2 separate regions of the Homo sapiens genome follow, and region 1 is linked to region 2. Evidence: fine-mapped expression QTL. A gene starts in region 2. The other region holds a variant in brackets. All regions are shown on one strand. Distances are from middle to middle.

Evidence for each region. PIP is the estimated chance that this variant, and not a neighbour inherited with it, causes the effect.
Region 1: its variant is fine-mapped to the expression of F2R in whole blood (TOPMed, PIP 0.98).

The regions. Positions count from the first base shown.
Region 1 is chr5:76,735,394-76,744,789 of GRCh38, reverse strand. F2R (coagulation factor II thrombin receptor) reads right to left here. Exons shown (of 2, transcript NM_001992.5): 2 at 9,020-9,396. Among named protein-coding and RNA genes, the nearest start is that of F2R, 24 kb to the right of the region's middle. RefSeq lists enhancers at 3,158-3,237, 5,371-5,440, 5,541-5,870. The variant G/C (reference allele first, on the strand shown) is at 5,852.
Region 2 is chr5:76,711,817-76,721,212 of GRCh38, reverse strand. It overlaps F2R (coagulation factor II thrombin receptor), which reads right to left and starts at 5,087. Exons shown (of 2, transcript NM_001992.5): 1 at 4,818-5,087. The coding sequence starts at 4,905. NCRUPAR (non-protein coding RNA, upstream of F2R/PAR1) reads right to left here and starts at 8,810. Exons shown (of 1, transcript NR_028375.2): 1 at 8,325-8,810. RefSeq lists enhancers at 2,237-2,737, 2,738-3,238 and a silencer at 5,032-5,281.

The DNA.
Region 1 (9,396 bases), 24 kb before region 2:
TCATGTAAAAACTAGATCCATGGTTCTCAAAGTTTGGTTTGCATAAGAATCACCCCCAGCTCTTGTTAAAAATGCAGATGATCCAGGTCCTATCCCAAACATTCTGGTTTTAGGTCCGGGATGGAGACCAAAAACCTGCATTATAACAAGCAGCTCAAAAGACTTTTGTGGACTCCATTTCCAGAAGCACTGAATGTAGTCACTGCTGGGTGGTTCAATCGACTACTGAAGCTGCCTTCATTATACAGAAGCAACAAGCCTATGGATACCAGCTTCAGTCTCACCATGTAAGAGACCATTTAATAATTGTAAGAAAATGAATAAGTGAAATTAAGGATCCAACAACATGGGTCAAAGAATGCAGAAATTAAATAAAGCTCAAGTATGTTTTAAAAAGAGCTTATGGGATAATTAATCAGATTTTTAAAATACTGAATAATAGAATGTGGGTTACACACATTCATTAATTTCAAGAATAAGAGGACTAACATAACTATGCAATAAAATCAGTCAAAGTTTTTGTTTTGTTTTGCAAAAATAATATTTGCTGCTTGATGAGGAAATATGAATTCCAGAAGAAAACAAATGAATAGCCCTTTTGGCACAAGTATAAAGACTATCAGAGTAAAAAGTCGTGCTCTGGTTATGATGACAGAATGCTGTACTGAATGTTCTGGTAGCTGCTGGGGACAAATAGAAACATTTCTGGCTTCAGAGTATAGCTAATGACTTTTTTTTTTTTTTTTCTTTTTTTTTTTTTTGAGACAGAGTCTCGCTCTGTTGCCCAGGCTGGGCTCACTGCAACCTCCACCTCCAGGGTTCAAGCGATTTTCATGCCTCAGCCTCCTAAGTAGCTGGGATTACAGGTGTCAGATACTGCACCTGGCCATGGCTAAAGATATTTTTATGTTTTTGAGAATTTCAGAGTTCCACAAGATATTTTGGGAGAATCTTGAAGATGTCAACTATATGTAGAATCATATGATTTCCTAACACCATTATTTCCTGCTTGAATAATATATTGAGGCACAAAATACTAATTGTGGCTAGGAGATGGTCAGAAAGATTTGTTTGTTTTTTCAGATTATTTTACTTTTGTTTTAATGTGGGTTGCTTTTTTGCTAGAGAGGCAGTACATACTCAGGAAAGAGAGAAGTAGAAAATACTTTAAAGGAAAAAAAATGACCCAATTACCAAAACGCAAGTTTAAACATCTTGGTATATTTCTCATTAGTCTTTGCCTTGACTTAGATCTATTTTTCCCCATCTTGTTGGTTTTGTACTGCTTGTATATCATTGCATCTTATTTTTTAAAAAATTAAACATTATAAGCACTGCTCTGTGTCGTTACATACACTTAAAACGTCTCATTGTTAAAGGGTATAATAGTCTCTGGAGAAGTCCTTTAAAATTACACATCTAGAGGAATTTTGTCTTCTGCTAACATGCAAATAAGGCTGCTATTAACAACCAGAAGCCTATTACTTTTTTTGATGTTATTTGTAATTATTTCTTGATAGATTCCCAGAAGTCATACAACTGGGTCAAAGGTTATGAACATGTAAGGATGATGACATTTTGTCAAATTGCTTTCCTAAAGTGTGTCCACCGACATTATCTTACCCTTTCTGGTATTTATATTATTTTCCTTATTTCCTCCATTCCTTCTGTAATACTTATTAGGGAGCTGTTTTAGCCATCATAGAAAAAGATCATTGTTAATTGGACACGAGCCGGTGTTATCTTGTTTTAAATTGCAGCTATTGGATTATCGCTGAGATGTAACATTTTTTCCCACGTTGGCTAACAAATTGTAGTTTTTCTTTCATCATTTAGTTTTTTCAATCAACTTGTAAGAGGGCTTCTATAATGACGAATTTACTCCAAGTTTACTGAATGTGCTGTAAATGTGTTCCCAGAGTTGATTAACAAAATCTTTGGTTTTCCCCAGGCACAGTGGAATCATGGATCCTCTGATGATGATCCCTGGGCTGACTCATTTGCCTTTGGGTTTGCAAAACTTCTCATTCCAGCTCCATCAAGACTGAAGCTCCTGAATGCTAAGTAGCACCCTAGTGCTTCCCTGAGGTCACCATTTTTCAGCCAGACCCAGAGACAGGAAAAATATCCACAGTTGCTTTCTGGTAACCAGGCGCTGCCGCTATCTGCCGGGCACTATCTTTAAAAAATGGGAGTTGCCACTTTAAACCCCCAGTGTCTTCTGAAATGGTTTTATGTATAAGATTAGAGCCATTTAAGCTATCTTTTTCCCTAGAAAAGAACCAAAGAAGGGAGAAAGAGGAGAGGAAGCATACAGCAAGATAGATATCACCTACAACAAATTTTGATTAAGAACATATGCTGCCACTACATTAAAAATTGCCCCAATTTTCTCAGAATAAAAAAAAATTGTCTCAGAAAATGATTTTAAGAATATGAGAATTGATTTTCTGGATCCCTGGACCTGCAACCTAGCCAAATTCTGCCTCGGGGCTATCTCTGAGAGCACTGCTATTCAAAGCATAGTCCAAAAGGAGCAACTTTAACTTTACCTGGGAAGTTGTTACACAGGCAGACCCAGCCTCGGACCAGTTGCAGCAGACTCTGGTAATTTGTATGCAGGTTAAAGTTTGAGAAGCAGACAGATCACAGCTCACTGTAACTTTGAACTCCTAGGCTCAAAGGATCCTCCTGTCTCAGCCTCCTGAGTAGCTGGGACTACAGGCGTGTGCCACCACACCCAGCTAATTCTTACATTTGTTTTAGCAGGGTCTTGCTATGTTGCTCAGGCTGGTCTCAAACTCTCAAACTCCTGGCATCAAGCAATCCTCCTGTCTTCACCTCCCAAAGTGCTGGGATTACAGATGTGAGCCACTGCACCTGGCCAAGAAACACTATTTTCTTTTCTTTTTTAAAAAACTTTTACTTTAGGTTCAGGGGTACATGTGCAGGTTTGTTATATAAGTAAATTGTGTGTCTTGGGGGTTTGGTGTACAGATTATTTCATCACCCTGGTAGTAAGCATAGTACTCGATAGGTGGTTTTTCAGTCCTCTCCCTCTCATCCTCCACCCTCAAGTAGGCCCTGGTATCTGTTGTTCTCCTCTTTGTGTCCATGTGTACTCAATGTTTAGTTTCACTTATAAGTGAGAACATGTGGTATTTGGTTTTCTGTTTCTGCATTAGTTGGCTTAGGATAATGGCCTCCAGCTCTATCCATGTTGCTGCAAAGAACGTGATCTTGTTCTTTTTTACGGCTGCATCGTATTCCATGGGGTATATGTACCACATTTTCTTTATCCAGTCTATCATTGGTGGGCATTTAGGTTGATTCCATAGCTTTGCTATTGTGAATAGTGCTGCAGTGAACACCTGTGCGCAGATGTCTTTATGGTAGAATGATTTCTATTCCTTTGGGTATATACCCAATAATGGGACTGCTGGGTTGAATGATAATTCTGTTTTAAATTATTTGAGAAATCACCACACTGCTTTCCACAATGGCTGAACTAATACTTTACATTCCCACCAGCAGTATATAAGCTAAGAAGCACTTTTCAAAAACAGTGGTATTGTTGATCTAAAAGGAAGAAGCTGAGTCAAAATTAATATAAGTAGAGAGTTTATTTGGGCCAAGCTTGAGGACTGCAACCCAGTGTATATTGAAGTGTATATTCAAGTTGTCCTGAATATACAATCTGATTAGCAGCAGTTGCATGTGAATGTTTATAAAGGAAAAGAGGCAGTTCCTAAGTTGTTTATCAAAATTTACATTAAAATAACATAAGCTGTTGATTGGATACACATTGTTCTTTGTATCACAGATTCCAGGAACATGAAGATAACAGGGAATGTAGCTAGTCAGGAACAAAATGCCTTTTTTTTTTTTGAGATGGAGTCTCTCTCCGTTGCCCAGGCTGGAGTGGCGCCATCTTGACTCACTGCAACCTCTACCTTCTGGCCTCCTGGGTTCAAACAATTCTCCTGCCTCAGCCCCCCGAGTAGCTGGGATTTCATGAGCATGCTGCCATGCCTGGCTAATTTTTGTATTTTTAGGAGTGTAGGGGTTCCACCATGTTGACCAGTCTGGTCTCAAACTCCTGACCTCAAGGGATCCTCTCGCCTCGGCCTCCCAAAGTGTTGGGATGACAGGCATGAGCTACCACACCACCAGGAACAAAATGACTTTAAATAATTGCCCACAGGCATGGGGGGTGGTGGGTAGGGGGAGGGTATGTGCCGGGGGTGTGACTGAAGTCCTCTACTCCCGTCTCTCTGGGCCTAATAAATTTTGCACACCTCACATAGCTCAGACTGCTGAGGGATTTTTCTTTTCTTAGTATCAACCCTGGTTTACACATCAGAATCTTCTGAGGAGCTTGAAAACAATATCAATGTCCAGGCCTCGCCCCCAGAGATTGGCACTGGAATTGTTTAGAAGCTCTCCAGTGATTCTATGCGCAACCAGAGTTGAGAACTGATTTAGTTTCTTTTCTTTTCTTTCTTTCTTTTCTTTTTTTTTTTTTTTTGAGACAGAGTCTCGTTCTGTTGCCCAGGCTGGAGTGCAGTGGTGCCATCTCGGCTCAGTGCAGCGTCTGCCTCCCGGGTTCCAGCAATTCTCCTGCCTCAGCCACCCGGGTAGCTGGATTACAGGCACGTGCCACCATGTCTGACTAATTTTTGTATTTTTAGTAGAGACAGGGTTTCACCATGTTGGCCAGCCTGGTCTCGAACTGCTGACCTCAGGTGATCCGCCCGCCTTGGCTTCCCAAAAAGCTAGGATTACAGGCATGAGCCACCAGGCCTGGCCAACTGATTTAGTTTCTAAAACTTGTTACAAGGCAGAGCTGATAAAATTCTAAATCTGAGGTCTTCAAATTTTGTGCTTCCTAACTAAACATTAAGTATTAGGATTAAATCCCAAAGCCAGTTAGCTTCTGGAGGATGGGAATATATTATTTGTCTTGTTTTTTTTAAAATATGTGTCAGCTAGTTTCAAGAGCAACTAGATATCCCAGGATAGGAAACAAAACAACAAAAATAGATATCAAATGATTATGGTTTTGCTCACGAATGCATCTCAGTATTGGACAGCCCACCCTTCGTGGTGTTTTCACTTCCTTGGATGGGTCGCATAGCAGCACACCAAAATGACCTGCAGATGTAGTCATTAAGATAGGCAAAACAGCCAGACTGGCCCTGCCACCATGCAGGCTACTATAGATGCAGCTTTCTTTTCTTTTTTTTTTTTTTGAGATGGAGTTTCGCTCTTGTCATCCAGGCTGGATGGCACAATCTCGGCTCACTGCAACCTCTGCCTCCTGGGTTCAAGCAATTCTCCTGCCTCAGCCTCCTGAGTAGCTGGGATTACAGGTGTGTGCCACCACATCTGGCTAATTTTTGTATTTTTAGTAGAGACAGGGTTTCACATGTTGGCCAGGCTGGTCTCAAACTCCCGACCTCAGGTGATCCACCCGCCTCGGCCTCACTAAAGTGCTGGGATTACAGCGGTGAGCCACCGTGCCCTGGCCAGATGCAGCTTTCAAAGCTCATCTCCTTACTGCTTATGAGTCATTTCCTGAAGTGATAAACACACAGCCTGCTGGGTTGAAACTGTACATGCTGTGTTATCTGAATTCTGAGATGCTACTGAATTTGACCTCTGGTTTTCCGTGTGTTTCCATAAGACTAGCATGCAATCAACAGTCCCCATGACAACAAACTTGGCGCTTGAGTTTCACTTTACAGGAATGCCACCATGGGTAGAATCTGCTGCTGTTCTGAATTGTCTCTTGGTCTTCTGGTCTGAAACTTTGCTCAGCAAGCACCTCTCTCTTTCCTTTACACAGCAG[G/C]TGGCTGAAAATCAGACCTCACACAGAGCTTCCTGTTCTGTGGACCACACCATACCTGATGACGTGAATCAGTATCTTTTCTTTTCTTTTTGTGACAGGGTCTCACTCTGTCACCCAGGCTGAAGTGTAGTGGCACCATCTTGGCTCATTGCAACCTCCGCCTCCCAGGCTCAAGCCATCCTCCCACCTTAGCCTCCCAAGTAGCTGGAACTACAGGCATGAGCCATCACGCTCGGCTAATTTTTGTATTTTTCGTAGAGACGGGGTTTTGCCATTTTGCCTAGGCTGGTCTCGAACTCCTGGGCTCAAACCATTCATCCGCCTTAGCCTTCCAAAGTGCTGGGATAATAGGCGTGAGCCACTGAGCCTGGATGTTGAATCAGTTTCTTGCTCCAAGACTTGGAACCCCTCAGCTCTGAAACAGCCAGAAACCCAGAGTGGTGCCTGCAGCTCTAAGCCAACTCTTTACCCCTGTTTGCTTTTATGCTTTTATAATAATTACCAGTTTATCTGTTTTCTTCAAGTCAATAAAGTTGGGACATCTTGGATAAGGGCAGTGGTTTTCAAACTTCTTTTGCTCAGAACACCTTAATACACTTAAAATTATTGAGGACCAGCAAAGAGCCTTTGTTTATGTGGGTTGCATCCATTGGTGTGCTGGAGTCAACTTGTACCTGCTCACAAGAATTCAATATTCAGGAAATTTGTCAAGCCAACTGTTAAACAGTTGGGAGCTTGAAACTGGAAAAGAAGGGAGTATTCACACCATCAAAATTGGCAAATGCTAGTTTGCCAGATCAGGCTTTTTTTCTTTTTGTGGAGATCCTGCTTAGCAGCACATCACTGACTTTTTTTCTTTTTCATTTTTTGAGACAGCCTTGCTCTGCTCTGTCGTCCAGGCTGGAGTGCAGTGATGCCATCTTGACTCACTGTAACCCTCGCCTCCCAGGCTCAAGTGATTCTCGTGCCTCAGCCTCCCAAGTAGCTGGGATTACAGATGTGCACCACCACACCCAGCTAAGTTTTTTATTTTTAGTAGAGATGGGGTTTACCTATGTTGCCCAGGCTGGTCTCGAACTCCTGGCCTCGTGATCCGCCTGGCTTGGCCTCCCAAAGTGTTGGTATTACAGGTGTGAGCTACTGCACCCTGCTGCCAATGATTTTATCTACTGATATTTTCCATATTAGACATTAAAATGGAGAACTTTTGAAAATATCTATTTCAGCTAAAAATGACAATAAGCCCATTACATGTTAAAATAAATACTATATTTTTCAAAATTTTTTCCCAAAACAATAATTTAAGGAGGAGAGTTGCATTGTTTTACATTTTTGCAATCTCTTTAATGACTGGTGTAATAGGAGACAGTCAGATTTTCGTCTCTGCTTCTGCATTCAATCTGTTGCACTTTCACATGTTGTGTAGCTTCTGGAAAACTCATCTGTCCACTTATGAGAGAAACAGACCAAAAAAGGCAAATAATATCTTGGTATTTGAAGAGAGTTTGACCTTGCAGATCTCCTGAGAGTCTCAGGAACTCTGAGAATAATTGCATTAGAGAATTTCTCCTCTCTTCTCACATTGCAGCTCACTTAACCACACCTCCTTCACAAAACACAATTAGGTTTATCCTGTGGTCAATTACTCTTCACACACATTTGGTCTAGTAGTTTCAAAAGGCATAGCCACATAACAGGCTAATTATGCCAGGAAATTACCATTGGTGAACTGTTTTTCCCCTTAATTTTCACGACAGCACCTGGCTGAAGATAAGCTGCTAATGGATGGTCCAGGCCCCAGAAACTTAAATAGCTTGGTCATCAATGCTGCTTAACCTTTTCCACTTGCTTCTGTAGCTCAACTTCCTCAAAGACATGCCAACGGCAAACAGTTTTTAAAATTTCTTAAATTCAGAAGTATAACCTAAAATTTTCCAAGTGTATATTCAATAGCCAAGCATTCCATTTCCTTAAAAATGCTATTTTTAGCTTGGTGGAAAAAACATTTTTTTTTTTTGGATACATGGTCTCACTCTGTTGCCCAGGCTGGACTGCAGTGGTGCAATCATGGCTCGCTGCAGCCTCAACCTCTTGGGCTCAGACGATCCTCCCACCTCAGCCTCCTGAGTAGCTGGGACCACAGGCATGCCATCGTGCCAGGTTAATTATTTATTTATTTTTTAATTGAGATGGCGTCTCACTATGTTGCTCAGGCTGGTCTCAACCTCCTGGTCTGAAATGATCCTCTGGCCTCAGTCTCCCAAAGTGTTGGCATTATAGGCGTGAGCCACCATGCCTGGACAAAAAAAATTTTTGTGTTAGCAAAATTTAAGGTTTTTTGAACTCAATCTATTCCTTGAAACACACGTGAAAAGTCCAGGCCTTAGAAACTTAAAAAGCTTGTGTGTTAACTTATAAAAATTCTGTATGTTAACAAAATCCTTGTTTAGTTGAAATAATTTTTTCATTGACTATGACTCTAGAAATAATTTATCAAAAATTTTTTTATTTTCAACCTTGAGAAGTACTAGTCATTTTGCTTTAAATTTCCCCTCCTCCCTTCTGCCTGAGGGAGTGCTAGACAGCAAAGGACTGTCATTCAGCCAGAGAAGACAGCACAGCCATTTTACGGATTTCCTTTCTGCTCTGACATTTAATTTCTCTCTCACTAGGGAAGAACTGCAGACACTACCCATGATGTCTATAACTCAGAAATTTGAATATATTCTCAATAAGCTTAAATTTTCTTAAGAAGGGATTGAGAGAGAGAGAGAGAGCTAATCACTCAATGTCTTTGGCAGAAATGGTGCTGTTTGTTTTATTTTTTCCTTGCATTTGTTCTTCCAGATCCCTTCTCCACGGCAAAGGAAGCTGATCTTTATGGACTACTTCACTCTGGGTATTGGGTTAAGATTAGGATCAAGGGGAGGCCTCCCAAGAGATCAGAGGGTGAGGGAGAGGCGTCAGTGTGTTCCCTCCTGTACCTGGGCCTTGGCAGTAATGGCTTCCCCTGATTGCTAGTCTCTGGGGGGTGCTTCACCAGTCCCCGTTGGTTCCCTTAACCCTGTCTACACCTTTGTAAATCACCTCTTCATTAAATGCTCTTCAGTTAAACCCTTAAAGTGTGCCAGGACCAGAAAGATATAATACTAATTTGTTCCAAAGAGATACCAAGCAAATGTTCACATTTATTAATACAGGTTATGTTTTTAAGAATGAACATAAAAACAGTGACATACTATTTTGTAAGTACATTAATGATATCATATTTTAATATATACAGACTAATAAACAATGACAGTAAATCTTCACTGATTTAGATAAAATGAATAGTCACTAAATTAATAAAACCAGTGCTAGCTTCTACTTACAATACAGTTATATTACTTTTATGTAAGTTATTCTATGGTATTTGGAAATAGTTTGCTCTTTTATTTTTTTATTTTTTATTTATTTTTATTTTTTGAGATGGAGTCTTGCTCTGTTGCCCAGGCTGGAGCACAGTGGCGCGATCTCGGCTCACTACAAGGTCCGCCTCCTGGGTT
Region 2 (9,396 bases):
CAAAAATAAACCAAGGCCCTGAGTCCTAATAACTCTTCTAACAAGGATGTTTTTGTGAGTATCCGCAATGGAAGGGGAGCCTAGGTGCTCACGAAAACTAGTTAAAGACTGGGCATGGTGGCTCACGCCTAGAATTCCAGCACTTTGGGAGGCCAAGGTAGGTGGATCGCTTGATCCCAGGAGTTTGAGAACAGCCTGGGCAGTGTGATAAAATCTCGTCTCTACTAAAAATACAAAAATTAGCCAGGCGTGGTGGCAGGTGCCTGTAGCCCAGCTACTCTGGAGGCTGAGTTAGGAGGATAGCTTGAGCCTGGGAGGCAGAGGTTGCAGTGAGCCAAATTTGTGCCTCTGCACTCCAGCCTGAGTAAGACACCTAGACCCTGTCTCAAAAAAACAGCAACAACAACTTTAACCCACCTAAAGTTAAGTTCCCCAGACACTAAGACCACATATTATATGATTCTATTGATATGAAATATCAAAAATAGGTAAATCCATAGAGAAAAAAGGCAAACTGGTGGTTCCTGGGGGTAGGGGAAGGGAGAATGGGATCTGACTGCTTACTGGTTTCCTTTCGGGGAAATGACAGGATTTTGGAAGTAGGTAGGGGTTTACAGTGTACATTGTACACTGTAAATGTACTAAATACCAATGAATTGTATACTTTAAAATGGTTAATTTTATGTTATGTGAATTCTACCTCAATTTTATTATTTTATTTTTTAAATTTAAATGATTAATTTAAATTTAAAATTTTCATTTATTAAATATTTTGAAGACAGCGTCTCTCCCACTCTGTTGCCCAGGCTGGAGTGTAGTCACGTGACCATGGCTCACTGCCACCTTGAACTCCTGGGTCAGGCCATCCTCCCAGTCTCCCAAGTGCTGGGACTACAGGTGCACACCACAGTGCCTGGCTACTTTTTAATTATTTTTTTTAATAGAGATGGGGTCTTACTATGTTGCCTAGGCTGGTCTCAAGCGATCATCTGGCCTAGGGTTCCCAAAGTGCTGGGATTACAGGTGTGAGCCACTGCACCCAGACCCTGAGAACCTGCTATGCTGGTATGTTCTATAAAAATAAAGGCAAAGCCACTAAAAATTATTAGATATAGATAGATAGATAGATAGTAGGGCAGAAAATTACTTGCTGACTCATAAGAAATCTGACTTTCAGGCTTTATAGAGCTTTCTGGTCTGCTTACGGTAGAACCACTGCTCAGTTTTCTGTCTTTCTGTTTAGGTTTACTAGCAATATCTCTTGTAACATCTGATTAATTAGTGTATTCATGAGCAGGGATCTTTTCAGAGCCTGCCTTATCATCTGTTAGCGAAAGTAAATGAGAGAATACCACAGTCCGTGCATAAATGCTCACTAAATACCTCCCTGTGCTGGGCCTGAGCTACCAAGGCGATAGGGCACAGACTTTGCTTCTATATTTTGATGAATTATCAAAAATAGGTAAATCCATACTGTACTAGGGAGCACAGTGGGGTTACTTCTCTACTGTAAGAGGTGCTGGGAGTCTAGATGGCTTCCTTTCTATAGGGGGTGTTAGAGAAAGCCTGCACTTCGGAGAGACAGGCCTGTGGTCAACTCCCAATTCCACCTCTTTTTTTTTTTGAGAGAGAGTCTCACTCTGTTGCTCAGACTGGAGTGCAGTGGCACAATCTCAGTTCCCTGCAACCTCTGCCTTCCAGGTTCAGGCAATTCTGGTGCCTCAGCCTCCCAAGTAGCTGTGACTACAGGTGTGCACCACCATACCCAGCTAATTTTGTATTTTTAGTAGAGACAGGGTTTCACCATGTTGGTCAGGCTGGTCTCAAACTCCTGGCCTCAAGTGATCCCCCTGCTTTGGCCTCCCAAAGTGCTGGGATTACAGGCATGAGCCACCGCACCCAGTCCCAATTCCACCTCTTTCTCAACTTGTGACTTAACCATTCTGGGTCTCTGTTTTATAACCAGTAAAATGAGGATGACATCTACTCAAAGGGCTGTTGTGAGAAATAAATAAGATAGTATTGTAACGTCCCTAAGAAGGATGTCAGCTGTAGTCAGTACTCCACAGAGGGTAGCTGTTTTTAATTAAACATGAACGTGGCGGGTATGGGATATGGGGAGGGCATTCTGGCCAGAGGGAGTGGCATGCGGACAGAAGCCAGAGAAAGCATAGCTCCTTGAAGGGAGGATCTAGAGGATGGGGCTGGGTGAACTGGAGGGTGAGTAATAGGAGATGGCTGGAGAGGGGCTGGGGACCCTCCTGCAAGGGGAGGAGCACTTCATTCCATGCCAGAGAATTGGGCTTGACTCTGTGAGTAGGAGGGTAGCAAGTGGAATTGCCCACCAAGTTCTCTCTGTCATAGTCACCACCAGCTATTCTTGAACACTTTAACCCTCTAGAGCCCCATAAAATTTATAAACATCACCTTTTACTCTTGGATGTTGGCCCTTTTAATGATCACATATCATCTCACTTAAATTGTCTAGACGAATGTAAACTGGTTGATGAATTTACACATTTCTCAACAACTATCTGCTGAGTGAACATTTGTTTTAGTCACCATGGGGATAAATAAAACTTTATAATCTTAGTTGGGAGAATGAGACACACACACAAAGTGACAAGGCAGGAAATGCCAAAATGAGTGGGAACAAAAAGTCGGGAAGTGCTGGAGGAAGGCTCAGCTTGGTGGTCAGGGCCAGCCCTGGGAGGGCTTCACCGCCCCTCTTGGCACACAGAGCTGGTAATCCTGGACAATAAACTCTATCACAGCGGTGGCGGTTCAAGGATGGGAGGCACTGTTGGATGCCTCAGAGTCCCAGCACCACTACCTTATGACAGACAATGCTTAGAATTGTCAATGCATGGTGGTAATAGAAAGTAAACCTATCTTGGGTTGATTTTATTAGTGATTTTAAATTTTCTAAAGACAAAGCCCCACTTATTCCTAATTGCTTGCACCCAGGGTGGGTGGACTGCCCCTTCCCTGCCCCACCCGCCACCACTTGCTTAGCCGCTGTCTCTGGGTCTTAGTTGCAGAATCAGCAAAAGGGGATAAATACCCACCTTAACAAGGTGTTTTGACAAGGTGAAATGAGACAATCCAAGTGAAAATTCCTTCTGGCCCAGGGCTTGACATGGAATATGGCACTTAGCAAGCGCTCCTTTTCCTCTATCATACTCCTTTCTTCTTTCCCTCCCAAAGTGGTTCCAGAATCCAGTGTTGATAAACTAGCCAAGTTCATCCACCTGCCTTTCTGTCTACACCAGCACTGTCCATATTAACATGCACCACTCCTGCCATGAGGATGTAAGAAGCTTGGCAGAAACCAGTACGCTTTGACTTCACTCCCTAATGAGGCTACACACCTTGCTGGGAGGCCACTGTGAGAAAGGGTGCAGCATTTCTATAAGCTCTGTTCTCCACCCCATGATCCAAATCTCAAACAAAACACTGGATTCTCAAGAGCGTGTCCTCAAACTACATTGTGCAAATTACATAATGGTATGTGAAATCATATCTCATCGCAAACAATTTTTCAGGAGTTCTCGGTGTTCTCTCAAACACTTTCGGCAACAATGCTCACTTATCTGCAGGCAGGCTAGTTACTGCTAAACACTGGGCCCCAGTCTGGAGCTCTTAGTTTTCCCAAAAGCATCTCAAAACTCACCCTGAACAAAGACAGAGAGGCGAGAACATGCTATGTCTTTGTCACCTCTTAATCTTGATGTGTCTACACTTTTTTTTGAGTGTGGGAGCAATATAGAGTGCACATTCTTTTAGCGATAACAAGAAAACCCGCTAGAACTTCTTTCAGCGTAAAAAAAATGGCTCAAAGCTTATAAAATACTATTGTTATTAGGAAATTCAAAAACACTTTTCTCACTTTCTAATTAGCGCCTTTACAGGCTAAAAACAACTCATCTGTGCTGCTCTTGGGGAAAGGGATACAGAAAATATTTGACCAAATAAATTAATCAAATTTATTTATTTGGTCAAGTGGCCAGATACTTAAAAATAGACTACTAGTGGGGAAAATATTCTAGGGGAGCAACCTTCTTGCAGTGGATCAGAAATCTCGTTAAGAAATACTGGGATCCCACAGTGTTCGAGGGAGCCCGGTCCTGGGGAGGGATCTCTCTCTTCAACTCACTTAGAAGGAATGGGTTCTAGGTAACAACAAAATCCTCTCCATGTCCCCTCCCCCGCCACCACGCGGAGCCTCTGCTATTGTCACCATATATCTCGCACCCTGCGCACCTCCTGGACACAAGGCCGGGCCGGGGGCTGCTGGTACTGATTCTCTGCTAAACATGCCAAGGGACTGCCTGGGCTTTTCTCTACATCACTTTTCTCGCCTGTAAAATGTGCAAGAAAAAAACTTCCAACAAAGCAAAACTTCAGCGGCAGCGGTTCGCCACTTTATATTTTAAAGATCGAAACGTTTATTGGTGGAGCAACGTGAGAGCTTTTCTTTTTGGGGGTGGTCCTGGGAGAAACACAATGACAAGTGCAACGCAGGACTGCAGGCTCCCCCAGGGGGCTTCCGCTCCATCCTCCTCCATATCCAACACCCCGTGGCAGGCGGGCTGCACCCTCCAAGATCGAGTCCAAAGGGGCATCGGCTGGGCCCGCGAAGGGGGTGGCACGCCCCACCTAAACGTGACTGGAAAAAACTCCAGATCTCAGCCCAAATGCCAGTTTGGCTTTCGGAGGAAACTGAGGCAGGGGTGAGGAGAAGGCGCAACAGTGACCCCCGCAGTCTCCCCTCGGCGTCCCTCCGCCCGCGCACCCCATTCCCGTGCATCTCTCACCTGGCCTGCGGGCCCGGGTGCGGGCAGACAACAGCGGGCCGCACAGACTGAAGCAGGCGGCCACCAGCAGCAGCCGCCGCGGCCCCATTGTCCCGGGCTCTGCGCGGCGCTGCTCCGGGAGGCTGCCCCGCCTCGGGCTGCTCCGCTTCACCCTCTCTCCTGACTTCTGCGGGTCGGGGAGCCGGTCTTCGCGGCAGGCAGAGCGCAGGGTGCCCACGGGTAAGATCAGGGTCCAAGCGACCCTCGGCGAGCGCTGTGTCTGGGGCGGTTAGCGGGGCGGGGCGGGACTGGGGCGCGCGGTCGCGCGGGCGCGAGCGAGGAAGGGCGCCCTCCGGCGTGCAGTGAGAGTCTCTGCGCTGGAGCCGCTCGGCGCCCCCTCCCCGCGGTCCCTCAGCCGCCGCTCGCAAGCCCCTCTGGCTCTGTGCGCCCCGCCCCGCCCCGCCCTGCCCTACTGGGGGGCCCTGGCCGCCGGCCACTGCCGGGCCTAGAAGTCCAAATGAGAAGTTTTTTCCTCTGGGCACCGTTGATTCGCGAAGCTGTCAGTGACTCACACTGGCGGGGTCCTTGGAATGGGGCCGCACGGCTCGCAGGCTGCTTCCCGCGGCCGTCTCGACCCTCCTGGGATGTGGAGACGTCGACAGTGGACGCCCCGGCCAGGATGCGTCCACGCCCTGCAGCCCCGCAGCCCTGGCGTGGCCTCCCGTCCTCCCTCCCTCCGTGTGGGACACCGGCAAAGTTCAGTTTTCGCTAAAAGTCTAAAAGGGACTTCTGCTTTTGTAACGTGGGGATCACGGATTTAAAAGTTTATGATGTAGTGACAGGGTTGCCCCTAAATGAGAAAGGGCCCTTGAGTCTGGACAGAATTCTTGAACTTTTATACGTCTCTCTTTATTTCGCGAAGTTAGGCGTTTCATACGCCGGGCACTCGTTTCCCCCACACGCAGACTGCGAGTGGAATAGGAAGAGCGGCTTCTCCCGCTTCCCCCCCGCGCGGCCTCGCGGAGCTCTTCCCTTTCCCGCGCCGCCCGCCGGGGTCACCTGCGCATCTGGGAGGAGGGCGCGCGTCTGCCGGTGAGGCCGGCGTTCTAGGGCCGCGGGCGCCCAGGAGAGAAATGGCCTGGTAACTTTCCAAGTGTCCTTCACACGTTCTTGAACGATATTACAGTTTGTTTTGTTTTTGAGGCAGGGTCTTGCCCTGTCGCCCAGGCTGGAGTGCAGTGGCGCCAACACGGCTCACTGCAGCCTCGATCTCCCTGGCTCAGGCCACCCTTTCGCCCCAGCCTCCGGATTACCTGGGACCACAGAAAGGCGCGCGCCACCATGTCCGGCTAATTTCACTGCTGGCCTCAAGCGATCCTCCTGCCTCAGCCTCCTAAAGTGCGGGGATTACAGGCGTGAATCACCGCGCCAGGCCTGATATTAAAGGAGTTTGGCTAAATTCAAGGCACAGGGCGGGGACACTCGCTTGGCAGTCTGCTAAGGGCCCCCAGGGGCGTCGCGGCTGGGGGTGGGCAGGAGGAGCCTGCAGCTTAAGTTGCTTTGCCACTGGCTCTGGTGCGTGCGCCTTTCAGACTCCAACAGGAAATGGGTCCCCAAATAGCTGTTTCTAGGAAAGCTCAGCCGCAGCCCCTTCTCCTCTTAACCCAGCGCACTGATGTGCGGGCATATTCGGAGTTCTGTGGTTGATAAGCTGCAGCTGAGAGCCGGTGGTCAGTTTTCTAAGCCTTTTTTAAAAGTGAATTTCGCACGAAGAGTATCATTCCCCCACTAGAGCCCGGACACTTACATCCGTGGAGAAAGTACGATCAGAGGCGATTTCGTTCTTCCCTGTATTCTCCCATCATCCTCAAAGGACAGTACCTTGTTGTACACAGAAGTTGATCACTAAATTGCGGAAGTACCCAGTTAAATAAAGCTTTTTAAAATCTATCCCCGTTCAGTTATCCTCTGGAAACATACCCAAGAGTAAATGTGAACAGTTAAAATTACATAGTTCTTCATTCACTATTAAACTATTTTTCATTATTCCTAAGACGTCATTGATTTTACAATTTATCATTTTAACCCATTACCACAAGCCAGAAAAAAATGTGACATACCAATGATTGTAAGAAACACTCCAATTTCAGGGTTATGAAGAAAAGGCATTTTAGAATCAATGAAACACAGTGGAAAATATAAACACATATGACAAAATTTCTGATAGTTGAAGGATATGAAATGAAAAATAAATTACCTTCTGCCTCCCCTCCCCTAGTTGCCATCTGACCACTAAGTTTCCCCTCCTTCCTTCCTTCCTTCCTTCCTTCCTTCCTTCCTTCCTTCCTCCCTCCCTCTCTTCCTTCCTTCCTTCCTCTCTTCCTTCCTTCCTCTCTCTCTCTCTCTGTCTTTCTTATTTTCTTTCTTTCTTTTTTTTCCTGAGGCGGAGTTTCACTCTTGTTGCCCAGGCTGGAGTGCAATGGCGCGGACTCGGCTCACAGCAACCTCCGTCTCCTGGGTTCAAGCGATTCTCCTGCCTCAGCCTCCCGAGTACTTGGGATTACAGGCGCCTACCACCGCGCCTGGCTAATTTTTTGTATTTTTAGTAGAGACTGGGTTTCACCATATTGGCCAGGTTGGCCTCAAACTCCTGAACTCAGGTGATCCACCCGCCTTAGCCTCCCAAAGTGCTGGGATTACAGGCATGAGCCACCGCATCCAGCTACCTGACCACTAAGTTTCTGTTCACCATTCAAAAAATCATATCCACATACAAATTGCATATATGTATATCCTTAAAATAAGAATGGAATAATACCACCACATTTTAAAATTTTATCTGTGTCATTGGTGGAAAATGTTATTTTTAACCATTTTACAAAACGATAAAGCTTAAAAGGATGCTTTGGGGTCTTAGTTGTTAGAACAAAATGTACCTCTAGTGACAAAAAGACGTACAATGAAGGCTGGGTGCAGTGGCTCACACCTGTAATCCCAGCACTTTGAGAAACTGAGGCGGTCAAATCACTTGAGGTCAGGAGTTAGAGACCAGCCTGGCCAGCATAGAGAAACTCCGTCTCTACTAAAAATACAAAAATTAGCCGGGCTTGGTGGTGTGCACCTGTAATCCCAGTTACTTGGGAGGCTGACGCAGGAGAATCACTTGAACCTGGGAGGCAGAGTTTGCTGTGAGCCAAAATTGCACCACTGCACTCCAGTCTGGGCAACAGAGCAAGACTCTGTCTCAAAAAAACAAAAACAAAAGCAAAAAAAAAAAAAAAAACAAAAATAATGAAATGCTTAAATGCTTTGTGCATATTGACTAAAGGATTCCTTCTAGGAATATTTCTGCCAGTTGTATTTTTTGAGGCTTGTTTGGTACATGTTTATCTAATTCTTTTTAAATAGTATACTATTCCCTTGTATACATATAATAAATTTTAGTCTTCTAAAACTATTTTATCTGTAGTGTTGTCCCCATTTATATTCCTAACATAGCTAATTTTTTGCTTTTTTCCCTTTATCTGACCAGAGGTCAGAAATGACTATTTTCTAATGCCCGTCTTTTTGCTCCGTTACTTTTATTTTTATTTATAAACACAGATTTTTAATTCATTCTTTTCCTCTACTTTCTTTGAGTTTACTCTTTAGCATAATTTTTTTTTTTTTTTTTTTTGAGACGGAGTCTCGCTGTATCGCCCAGGCTGGAGTGCAGTGGCGCGATCTCGGCTCACTGCAACCTCCGCCTCCTGGGTTTACGCCATTCTACTGCCTCAGCCTCCTGAGTAGCTGGGACTACAGGCGCCTGCCACCACGCCCGGCTAATTTTTCTGTATTTTTAGTAGAGACGGGGTTTCACCGTGTTAGCCAGGTTGGTCTCGATCTCCTGACCTCATGATCCGCCCGCCATGGCCTCCCGAAGTGCTGGGATTACAGGCGTGAGCCACCGCGCCCGGCCTCTTTAGTATAATTTTTTGAACTGATTATTTTTTACCTCTTCTCCTTCAAAAGACCACATCAGCTACATTTTGCAAGTTTTGATATGTGCATATATAAAATTCAGGTCTAAATATTTTGTCAATTTCATTCAATCTTCAACCATAAATTCTTGGATATTTTGACTGGCTTTTTGTGACTGATTTCTAATTTTATGGTCTGTTAGTGATGTTGTTTTTTGTTTTGTCCTTAGACTTCACAAAGTTCCTATGTTTATGTGCTCTTAAGAGCTTTTTTTTTTTTTTTTTTGAGACGGAGTTTTGCACTTGTTGCCCAGGCTGGAGTGCAACGGCCGGATCTTGGCTCACCACAACCTCCGCCTCCTGGGTTGGAGCGATTCTCCTGCCTCAGCCTCCCAAGTAGCTGGGATTCAGGCATGTGCCACCATGCCCGGCTAATTTTTGTATTTTTTTTAGTAGAGACTGGGTTTCTCCATGTTGGTCAGGCTGATCTCGAACTCCCGACTGCCGAGACCAGCTCGGTGGTGGAGACCCTAACCTAGCGGTGCTAGAGGAATTAAAGACACACACACAGAAATATAGATTGTGGAGTGGGAAATCAGGGATCTCACAGCCTTCAGAGCTGAGAGCCTCGAACAGAGATT